Homo sapiens: one gene and its partners. The protein of the gene in region 3 interacts with the protein of the main gene of each other region in a pairwise test. Each region holds a gene or a part of one and is shown on either strand. Other genes may lie near its edges. The genes, in order: PCNT, ZNF76 and RPRD1A.

The links.
Region 1: the proteins of RPRD1A (region 3) and PCNT interact in a two-hybrid assay, tested with the Homo sapiens proteins (one large-scale study listed by BioGRID and IntAct).
Region 2: the proteins of RPRD1A (region 3) and ZNF76 interact in binary tests that used the Homo sapiens proteins (3 or more experiments, as listed by UniProt).

Annotation. Positions count from the first base shown.
Region 1 is NC_000021.9:46,428,622-46,432,346, forward strand, and holds part of PCNT (pericentrin), read left to right. Parts: intron 1-1,388; coding exon 1,389-1,611; intron 1,612-1,885; coding exon 1,886-2,036; intron 2,037-2,907; coding exon 2,908-3,594; intron 3,595-3,725. UniProt on the Homo sapiens protein: Integral component of the filamentous matrix of the centrosome involved in the initial establishment of organized microtubule arrays in both mitosis and meiosis. Plays a role, together with DISC1, in the microtubule network formation.
Region 2 is NC_000006.12:35,293,610-35,296,485, reverse strand, and holds the end of ZNF76 (zinc finger protein 76), read right to left. Parts: intron 2,736-2,876; coding exon 2,571-2,735; coding exon of another isoform or gene 2,565-2,570; exon of another isoform or gene 2,558-2,564; intron 2,031-2,557; coding exon 1,917-2,030; intron 1,707-1,916; coding exon of another isoform or gene 1,575-1,706; exon of another isoform or gene 1,571-1,574; intron 1,343-1,570; coding exon 1,238-1,342; 3' UTR 501-1,237; downstream 1-500. UniProt on the Homo sapiens protein: May be involved in transcriptional regulation.
Region 3 is NC_000018.10:36,060,906-36,064,630, forward strand, and holds part of RPRD1A (regulation of nuclear pre-mRNA domain-containing protein 1A), read right to left. Parts: intron 1-3,725. UniProt on the Homo sapiens protein: Interacts with phosphorylated C-terminal heptapeptide repeat domain (CTD) of the largest RNA polymerase II subunit POLR2A, and participates in dephosphorylation of the CTD by RPAP2.

The DNA of each region.
Region 1 (3,725 bases), on a different chromosome or scaffold from region 3:
CGGCCTCTGCACCTGCCCGCCCGACACTCACCTGTGTGGCCTTGGGAGCAGAGGGTGGTGACAGGGCATCATCTAGTCAAGCCCCTGAGTGTTGCCATGGTTGTCAGCTGATAGGACTGAGCAGAAAGGACCCTGGAGACAGGCAGCGCTGGGTGGGGCTGGCACGGAGGCCTCACTCTTGGGCCTGATGTGGGCAAGAGGGGCCTGGGTTGGGCTCTGAGTGCTGGCAGATTCTTGGGAGCTCATGCTAGAGTTCAGGAATGTCTCGTAGGTTTCTACATTTAATTTAGCTTCTTCGGGAGTTTTTATGTAGATGCTCAGGTCATCTGTGGGTAAGTAACGATTTTTTGTTTCTTGCCCGTGTTCTCTCACGTGCTGTGCCGTCAGCTGTGTGGGCAGATGCCATTCCCTGCTCTTAGTTTTGGGGGCAGGAGCTGGTCTCGTACCATCGCATGTGGGGTCAGGCGCCCTTGGTCAGCTTGGGCAAGTGCCCTCTGTTCCTAGTTTTGGATTCCGTCAAGGGGAACGGCCTTGCAGTTCAGCCCACGGCCCTTGTCCCGGCGCCCATGCCCTTTGTGCTCTCTGGGGCTGGGGGCCGGCGCTGTGCACATGCTCGTGAGGGGCATGGGTGGGGCTGGCGCTGTGCAAGCGCTTGTCAGGGGCATGGGCGGGGGGTGCCGGCGCTGTGCGAGCGCTCGTGAGAGGCATGGGGGGGCTGGCGCTGTGCACGTGCTCGTGAGGGGCACGGGCAGGGGGTGCCGGCGCTGTGCGAGCGCTCGTGAGGGGCATGGGGGGGCTGGCGCTGTGCACGTGCTCGTGAGGGGCACAGGGGGGCCGGCACTGTGCGATCGCTCGTGAGGGGCATGGGGGTGGTGGGCCGGTGCTGTCTGAGTGCTCGTGAGGGGCACTGGTCTGTTTTCTGTTGTGCCTTTTTGGTCTTGGTGCTGGGTAGCGCCAGCCCCACGGGGTGCGGGAAGTATTTGGGAAGTAGCCCCTCCGCCCTCCGTTGTCTAGAATTGGGGTTATTTCTTCCTTAAGTTTTGGGAGAATTTTCCAGTAAAGCCACCTGGGCCTGGAGTTCCCTCTGTTGGAGGCAGTTTAGGGTGTGAGTGGGGGTGAGGTGGCATTTTTAGGATGGCCCCAGGGCTATATCACTCCTGGACTCTGTGTCTCCCGGCCAGGTGGGTGGGCCCTGGAAGGAAATGGGCCCAGAGGGCAGAATTGAGCATCCTGGTTCCACCCGCAGTGAAAGCTTCTAGTCCACAGAACCTCCTTTCTTCCCGAAGCACATACACCTCACGCCCCCACGAGTCTGTCTCTAACCTGGTGTCACTTGTGCAGCACGAGGAGCTCATGGGGGCCTGTTACTGTTCTTTTGTCTTTCTCAGTTGAACTGCTGGCTTATAAAGTAGAGCAGGAGAAGTGCATTGCTGGTGACTTGCAGAAGACGCTGAGTGAAGAGCAAGAGAAGGCAAACAGCGTGCAGAAGCTCCTGGCGGCGGAGCAGACTGTAGTGCGAGATTTGAAGTCCGACCTCTGTGAGAGCAGGCAGAAGAGCGAACAGCTGTCCCGGTCCCTCTGCGAGGTGCAGCAGGAGGTCCTCCAGCTGAGGTGCGCCTGATCCCCCTTCCTGGGACACTGGCGGGAGTCCCCCCGTTGTGCCATGTTTTCTTGGTGATGAAGGGAGACAGAACCTCTGGTGGGCCGCAGTTGGGCAGCCCCAGGGGCACCGCGCCCTGCTGTCCCTGGGTTGATAATCCTGTGGTGGGGGGTGAAGCACACGTGTGGGACCTGGCAGGGCTCTGCCTCCCCTCCTGGAGCTCCCAGCCCCCGGGAACACACTCTGGCCCACGTGGTCAGATTGTTCTGCGATGTCTCCACGCAGATCCATGCTGAGCAGTAAGGAGAACGAGCTGAAGGCCGCGCTTCAGGAGCTGGAGAGTGAGCAGGGGAAGGGGCGTGCCCTGCAGAGCCAGCTGGAGGAGGAGCAGCTGCGGCACCTGCAGAGGGAGAGCCAGAGTGCCAAGGCCCTGGAGGTAACAGGGTGTCAGGGCAAGGCAGCCGGCATGGGCTGTGTGCACTGGAAGCCTGAAGCCATGCTCCTCTTTCATCCTTCTTTTCCTGTTCTTCATGGCAGTGCACCCAGTTGACAGCAGTGTGACGTAGCAGGATAGGGCTGTGTTTGCAGGTAAAATTGCACCTTGGTGTAGTGGCAGCCACCACAGGGCGAAGAGTGCGATGACCCGTGGTGGCACGATACCCCTGCTCGGAGCCCCCCCCCGTCCCTGAGCACTTGCTGTGGAGATGGACACAGCCTCCTCGCTGGCATCCAGACAGAGCACAGCCTCAGAGGTCTGTGCACAAGGCAGGCTGGTGGTGGGGCCTCTGCTTTGCATGGCGGAGGCCCAGCAGGCCTGCTGTGGCTTCTGAGCAAGTCTGTGCCAGTTCCATGGGTTATGGCTTTCAACAGCATGGAAGTGGTGGTTCCTAGCAAGCTGGGTGTGTATCTCTGAGCCTCTGGTGGAGTGATTTTCTGAAGAGGGGGCAGGAGCCTCTGGTGGAGTGATTTTCTGAAGAGGGGGCAGGAGCCTCTGGTGGAGTGATTTTCTGGAGAGGGGGCGGGCAGGGGACATCTCTGAATCATTTTCTGGAGAGGGACAGACTGGGAACATCTCTGAACCCAGGACTCAACACCATTTCCGAAAAAAGTATGTCATCTCCGCAGTCTGGGTTTTTTGTTACTTGATGAACTAACAAAAAAATGTTGTCCCTACATGTGGCTAATAGGGTGCATTTCAAAAGGTAGAATTGCTGGGCTAAAGTATATAAACAAATGTGGACAGGAAAACCATGTAGACACTTTTCCTCTTGATTCAGTGTCTCCCATCGTATGTGTTTGCTGTCTAGGAGCTGCGGGCGTCTTTGGAGACACAGCGTGCTCAGAGCAGTCGACTCTGCGTGGCACTGAAACACGAGCAGACGGCCAAGGACAACCTGCAGAAGGAGCTGCGTATCGAGCACTCACGCTGCGAGGCCTTGCTGGCTCAGGAGCGGAGCCAGCTCTCTGAGCTCCAGAAGGACCTTGCGGCTGAGAAGAGCCGCACCCTGGAGCTGTCAGAGGCCTTGCGGCACGAGCGGCTCCTGACCGAGCAGCTGAGCCAGAGGACACAGGAGGCTTGCGTGCACCAGGACACACAGGCCCATCACGCTCTGCTGCAGAAGCTGAAGGAGGAGAAGTCCCGGGTGGTGGACTTGCAAGCGATGCTTGAAAAGGTGCAGCAGCAAGCCCTGCATTCTCAGCAGCAGCTTGAGGCTGAGGCTCAGAAGCACTGTGAGGCGCTCAGGAGAGAGAAGGAGGTAAGTGCCACACTGAAGTCGACGGTGGAAGCCCTGCACACCCAAAAACGAGAGCTGAGATGCTCTCTGGAGAGAGAGAGGGAGAAACCAGCGTGGTTGCAGGCAGAATTAGAGCAGTCACACCCACGGTTGAAAGAGCAAGAAGGACGCAAGGCTGCGAGGAGGAGCGCGGAGGCCAGGCAGAGCCCAGCGGCTGCGGAGCAGTGGAGGAAGTGGCAGAGAGACAAGGAGAAGCTGGTGAGAGCCGCCTGCCGGCGGAGCGTCCACACCTAAAAACGATAAGCAATTGGAGTTAGGATGGTTCACGTGGGGGACGCGAGATTTATGTCTGGCCCTCTGACCTGGTCTGCTCTGGTCTGTGTGCCCTG
Region 2 (2,876 bases), on a different chromosome or scaffold from region 3:
AGAGCTGGGTAATAGAGCCAAGACTTCAGCTCCAGAGGCATCAGACTCTGCTCCTTGAATCTCAGTAACCTTGGCAAAGGTGTCCCCCAGCCTCACTCTAACCTGGGGCTTTGCCCTCTTGGAGAAGCTGACTGTGTGATTTGGGGGTGGCTGGGTTGGAGGGGCTCTGACTACGTTTCACAAGAAAAGGCAGGAAAAGAGTTCCCCCAGCTCAATCACATGAGGCCTGAGATTCAGCCAGAGCCTGGAAGCAGCGGTCACCCTGGTCCTGTTTGGCTACCCTGGAGCCCACCTGCTCAGCTGTGGGCAAGAAGCCACCAGCAGCTCCTCAGGGCTTTATCTTATACTGGGCTTCCTTCCCACCTGTGTCCCTGGCAGGCCAGCCCCACCACTCTGGCACCAAGGCTGAGTGGGGTTTGTGCCAGGGAGACAGGGCTGATAGCCTGATTTGACCAACCCTGCCACCCGGGCCTAGAGCTGAAAGGATGGAGGGACCCAGGTGGAAATTTGGAACTTTTATTAAATACTCATTCATCCATGTGCCACCACCACCCAGAGCAGGAAAAAAATTATCAAAATGGAATTAAAAAAAACAAAACAAATCAAACCCAATCCCCAGCAGTCTATGTACAGGGCCACTCCCTGCCTCTCTGCCATAGAGAGGTTGGGGGGCAGCTGAGGAGTGGTGGGGGCTGGGCACCTTTTCTTCAGCCACAGGCCCCTGAGGAATTAATTGACTGTGGTGTCAGGAAGTCCCTGGTGCCAAGTAGCCAGGCATCTCAGCTGGCCTCCAGGGAGGTGGTTATTGCTGGGAGGGCAGGACAGGGCCTGCTCCACTGCTACTGGGCTGAAGAGCTGTCTGTGGCTCAACCCTACAGGGCCAGTCCCCATAGCAGCCCCAATCTCTACCTGAGAAGGGGAACAGACTGAGGGCCAGAAGGGTGTTCTTTAGGAGGAGAGTGGGCGCCCAGCTGATTTTGAGAGGCGGGTGCCCTGGTGTAGCCTGGCTGTTGTCAGCTCCCGAGGATGATGCACTCCCCTGATTCCAGCTGCCTGGCCCCCTTCTTGAGCAGGGCCCCCATTCCCTTCAGTTAGGCAGTTTTCTTGCTGTCTTCTCACCCCAGAGACCTATGTGGCCACCTTCTATGTGTCAGCCACAGCCTGGGCCCTTGGGGGCAAGAGTGGCCATGCAGATGGCACTTCCTCCAGCATGGTGTGGGACCCAGCCCTCTTGGACTCAGCAGCCACTCTCCGACACTGTTGTCTCCAGGGTCACAGCCCCTTGCTGCATGGCCGCAGTGGCCACATTGATGGCCTCCTCTAAGGTCTGCTGTTCCTCCAGCTGTGGGGAAGGGGGTGCAGAAGGAAGGAGACAGTGAGACCCTCCCTGCTAGATTCCAGTGTTAGTAATATGTGGCCTACTTTTTTTTTTGACTCTCCCCCATCTACCCAGTGCCACACGCTGAGCACTTAGTAGGGCTCCAATAAACATGAAGTTCACGGATGAAGAGTCCTATTAGGCTAGGCATGGCCAGGGGGCCCTGGAATAGCCAGGGTCAGAGAGACCCACTTGCTCACGGAGGAAGGACTGGCTGAAGAGAACCGTGGTGATCATCTACGTCAGCCTCCTTCATTTCCAGATGAAGAAACAGAGACACAAAATGATGAAGGGCTTGGACCACAGGTGGACTGCCATCGGAGTTATCCTGAAGGCCAGAAGAGGCTTCAACATTCTGCCTCAGCCAAGAGCGAGCCTGAGACAGATGCATGGATGCAGGAGGAAAGGGATCTGTCCTCTGAAATGGGCTCTTTTTGAGTCAGATGCCCTTCTCTTCAAGATCCTCATCTAATTCCCCTTTATTCCTTGTTGACTTCTCTGGCCGTGGGATCCCCTTTCCTCCCAGATCTCTACTCACCTGCACTGCAATGTGCGTTCCGTTGGCTGTGGCCAACAGTGCCACCTGTTGATGACGAAGAGATGCTACACTTGAGTCCTCAGCCACCACAGCCCCAGAGGTAATGATTGTGACCTGAAAGACAAAAGGAGGTCTTCCATTCCACCTGCAGTATACTCTCCCTCCCCACAATCCAAATAAACATCCCTCCAATTAAGGTGCTGGGAACAACCCAGAAGAGAATGGATAAAACCGTATGGGTCAGATTAATTAGCCTGAGGCTCAGAGCTAAGTAAGGCTGGGTTTCCTCCCAACTTAGAGCCCAATTTAATTTAGGGATTTTGAATCACAGAAGGACAGAGCTGTAAAAAATTCCAGAGATATTTTAATCCCCTCACTTGAAAATGGACAGAAGTCCATGGAAAAGTGATTTGCCTAAGGTTGCACAACAAATCAGGGTTGAATTGAGATTTAGAAAGTGTCTCTTGACCTCCATTCAACTGCTTTTAAAGGTAAGAGCTGCTCATGGCCCAGGAACTGTGGGGAAGACCCCTTCTTTTGTGGGGAATCTTTGTCCTGGTAAGAAGACTTGACTAGTTTAGGCTGCACTTTAATGCCCGCCCCATGGAAAGGAATGACAAAATAAGAAACCCCAAGCAAACCGCCTGGTCATACGGGCTGCGTCTGGGTGCCATCGGCGCTGACCATGGTGACTGTATGTGTGCCAGATGTGGCCAGGTCGGCATCAGGACTGGGGATGGTGAGGGTGGTGCTGCCGTGCTGGGTGACCATACTGATGGCACTCCCCAGGGCCTGCAGGTCTTCCGGGGACAGGCTGACCTGCCAACAGGAGGGGAAGATGAGCTGGCAGTGTCAGTGGAGGGTTGTCTGAAAGTCCCTAAGGAAGATATACCTGCTCTCCCAGACAAGGTCAGCTTATTAGTTTCATGTCATAGTGGTGGAAGGGATGGGTGACAGGCA
Region 3 (3,725 bases):
ATCACCTGAGCCCAAGAGTTCAAGAGCAGCCTCGGCAACATAGTGAGACACTGTCTCATAAAAAAAAAAAAATTTAGGAAACAAAGTTAACAGGCATTCAAAGGCTGACCATTTCCAGGTTTGGCTCTTTGCATCCAAAGCTATGTATCACCTCAGCACTTTCACATATTCCCAGTGGCTGCAGGCCCAAGCCCCCCTACCCCCGCAACTTGTTCAAAGAGGTCTTTTATTAAACGTCACCTTGCAGAGATGATTTCCCTCTAACTAAAGATTTCCTCCTTCAAAGAACTAAACACGAAATTTATATTTAAAATTTTTTGTTTATTGGTTGCCCTTACCACAAGACTATAAATTCTGAGGGCAGGGATAAACTGTTTTCCCTTTGTTTTCTTTACCATTGTAATACACAATCAATAAATACAGGGTGAGTAAACATACTTTAAGGGGTTGAGGCACTTACAGTTTTGTTAAGACACCAATATAACATAAAAGAGGCTGGTACAAAGGATACAATCACTAGACTAGGGAAGGCAGTGACCTTCACCAACTACAAAGAATTTCCTCCTATCTATCTTGTTTTGTACAGCTCTTATAGAGATCTTTCAGCGAGTGTGTGTAGAAAAGAGCCCAAATGTTAGTGTTGGTTTCTAAGTTCAGGTATGTTCATGGTCAATATTTCTACAGAAATGAATATAAATTAATGATGTATATTAAGTTTTAAAATTTAGCCTAGTATTGACTGAGACATTTACAGTTTAAAACAGTCACCTTCAAAGGACACTATTAAGAAAGTAAAAAGACAACCCACTGAATGGAAGAAAATATTTGTGGTATGAATCTAATACAATACTTGTACCTAGAATACATTGGGAACACTTACAACTCAATCATAAAAAGACAAATTTTAAAATAGGCAGAATAGACATTTCTCCAGACAACATCCAAATGGCCAATAAGTACATGAAAATAGGCTCAGTGTCATTAGTCATCTGGGAAATGCATATCAAAATCATGAGATACCACTTCATACCCACTAGGACAGCTGTAATCAAAAAGATAACAAATATTAGCAAGGATGTAGAAAAACTGGACCCTCATACACTGCTTGTAGGAATGTATTTTAAAAACATGGCCGGGCGCGGTGGCTCACGCCTGTAATCCCAGCACTTTGGGAGGCCGAGGCGGGTGGATCATGAGGTCAGGAGATCGAGACCATCCTGGCTAACAAGGTGAAACCCCGTCTCTACTAAAAATACAAAAAATTAGCCGGGCGCGGTGGCGGGCGCCTGTAGTCCCAGCTACTCCGGAGGCTGAGGCAGGAGAATGGCGTGAACCCGGGAAGCGGAGCTTGCAGTGAGCCGAGATTGCGCCACTGCAGTCCGCAGTCCGGCCTGGGCGACAGAGCGAGACTCCGTCTCAAAAAAAAAAAAAAAAAAAAAAAAACATGTACCCACTGTGGAAAATAGCCTGGTGGATCCTCAAAAGGTTGAACATAGGATTCCCATATGACCCAGAAATTCCACTCCTCAGTAAGTATCCAAGATGAAAACATATCCACAAAAAAAAAAAGCTTGTACAGGAGTGCTCACAGCAGCATTATTTATAATAGCCAAAAAGCGGAAACAACTCGAACGTCTATCAACTGATGAATGGCTAAATTCATACAATATTCTATTCGGCCATAGAAAAGACTGAAGGACAGTAAGTGGTCTTTTGCAACTGGCTTCTTTTAATTAACATGTTTTCCAGGCTCATCCATGTTATAGCATGGATGGAAAACACACAAAAGACCACATACTATATAATTCTATTCATATGAAATGGTAAAAATAGTCCAATCTATAGAGGCAAAGTAAATTAGCAGTTGCCTAGGGTTGGGAGAGATGGGGGACTGGGGACAACAGCTAAATGGCATGGAGTTTCTTTCTGGGTAATAAAAATGTTCTAAAACTGGTGGTAGCTTTACAATTCTATAAACATATCAAAAACCACTGAATAGTATACTTTGAATGGATAAAAGGTGTGGTATGTGAATTACATCTTAATAAAGAAGTAACAAAATGGTCACTTACATTTTTGGTTACACTTTACTGCATTTATCAGGAAAATTGTATGCCATTTTGGTCTTCACAAAGGCCTTGAAGTTTATCCCTCCAAACAGAAACTCTTTCTTTAAAGGAGACAAAGATAAGGAAGGTAGGAAAAGAAGGGAAACCTTCATAACTGAATGGCTACCATTATCTAACATATATAATTTTACTTATTCATTCTTATATTTTTTTGTTTGTTTGTTTTCTGAGACAGGGCCTTGCTCTGTCGCCCAGGTTGGAGTGCAGTGGCGCACTTGGCTCACTGCAGCCTAAACCTCTTGGGCTCAAGTGACCCCCCAACCTCAGCCTCCTTAGGCCTGCGCCATCATGCCCAGCTAATTTTGGTATTTTCTGTAGAGACAGGGTTTTGCCATGTTGACCACGCTGGTCTCGAACACCTGAGCTCTGGCAATCCACTTCCCTCAGCCTCCTAAAGTGCTGGGATTACAGGCATGAGCCACAGTACCCAGCTCATTCTTTTATTTTAAACAGTAGCTTCTCCCACTCTCACATTTTTGTCTTTACACACTTTGAGAAACTAAAGAATGCCTAGCTTAACACAAAATGTTCAACTAATTTTCTTTAGTTTGTTGTAATATACTTTCAAGATTGATCGATTCCTTTCATAATTATTCTGCAGAAATAATGTGATTCAAGATATGGTAAAATAACTAAAAGAATGTCTGGTACTCAGTAACTGATTGCCATTATCATTAAACTACAGGAGATGAGAATCCTGAAGTTGATGAGCAAAACTGCAGGAAAGGGGAAGGACACAAAGGCTACACCCTGCAAAAGCAGTCATCTGTCAAGAAAAGGAAACCCTTGGCAGAGTAGCCCAGGCTAATATGAGGATTAAAGCGGCAGCGGTATGTTCATCAGCATCACCGTTACTATCAACACTATCATCACTACCACCCTCCTCCTAAAGCATCTTTTTATATGCTTTAACGTTTTCCACTTATGAAACACTTAAACATATGGAAACATCACAAACCTTGCTAAAAGCACATCTTACAATTTTACCACATTTGCACCATTTTCTTAAATACATTAAATATTAGATAGCTTTCTCCTATTGAGAGGTGACAACGTCCTAGCAGCCCTTGCTCGCTCTCGGCGCCTCCTCGGCCTCGGCGTCTGCTCTGGCCGTGCTCAAGGAGCCCTTCAGCCCGCTGCTGCACTGTGGGAGCCCCTCTCTGCGGCTGGCAGAGGCCGGAGCCGGCTCCATCTGCTCTCAGGGAGGTGTAGAGAGAGAGGCGCCGGCAGGAGCCTGGGCTACGCGCGGTTCCGGGTGGGTGCCTGCTGGGCTTGATGGGGGACGAGCTCCCTCTGGGCTGCTAGAGTGCCCAAGCTAGGTGCCGCAAAGTCCCGCGGCGAGTGCCATTGAGAGGTGAAGCCAGCTGGGCTTCTGGGTCAGGTGGGGACTTGGAAAACTTTTCTGTCTAGCTAAAGGATTGTAAACGCACCAATCACCACTCTGTGTCTAGCTCAAGGTTTGTAAACGCACCAATCAGTGCTCTGTGCCTAGCTAGAGGTTTGTAAACACACCAATCAGCACTCTGTGTCTAGCTAAAAGTTTGTAAATGCAACAATCAGTGCTGTGTGTCTCGCTAAAGGATCATAAAACGCACC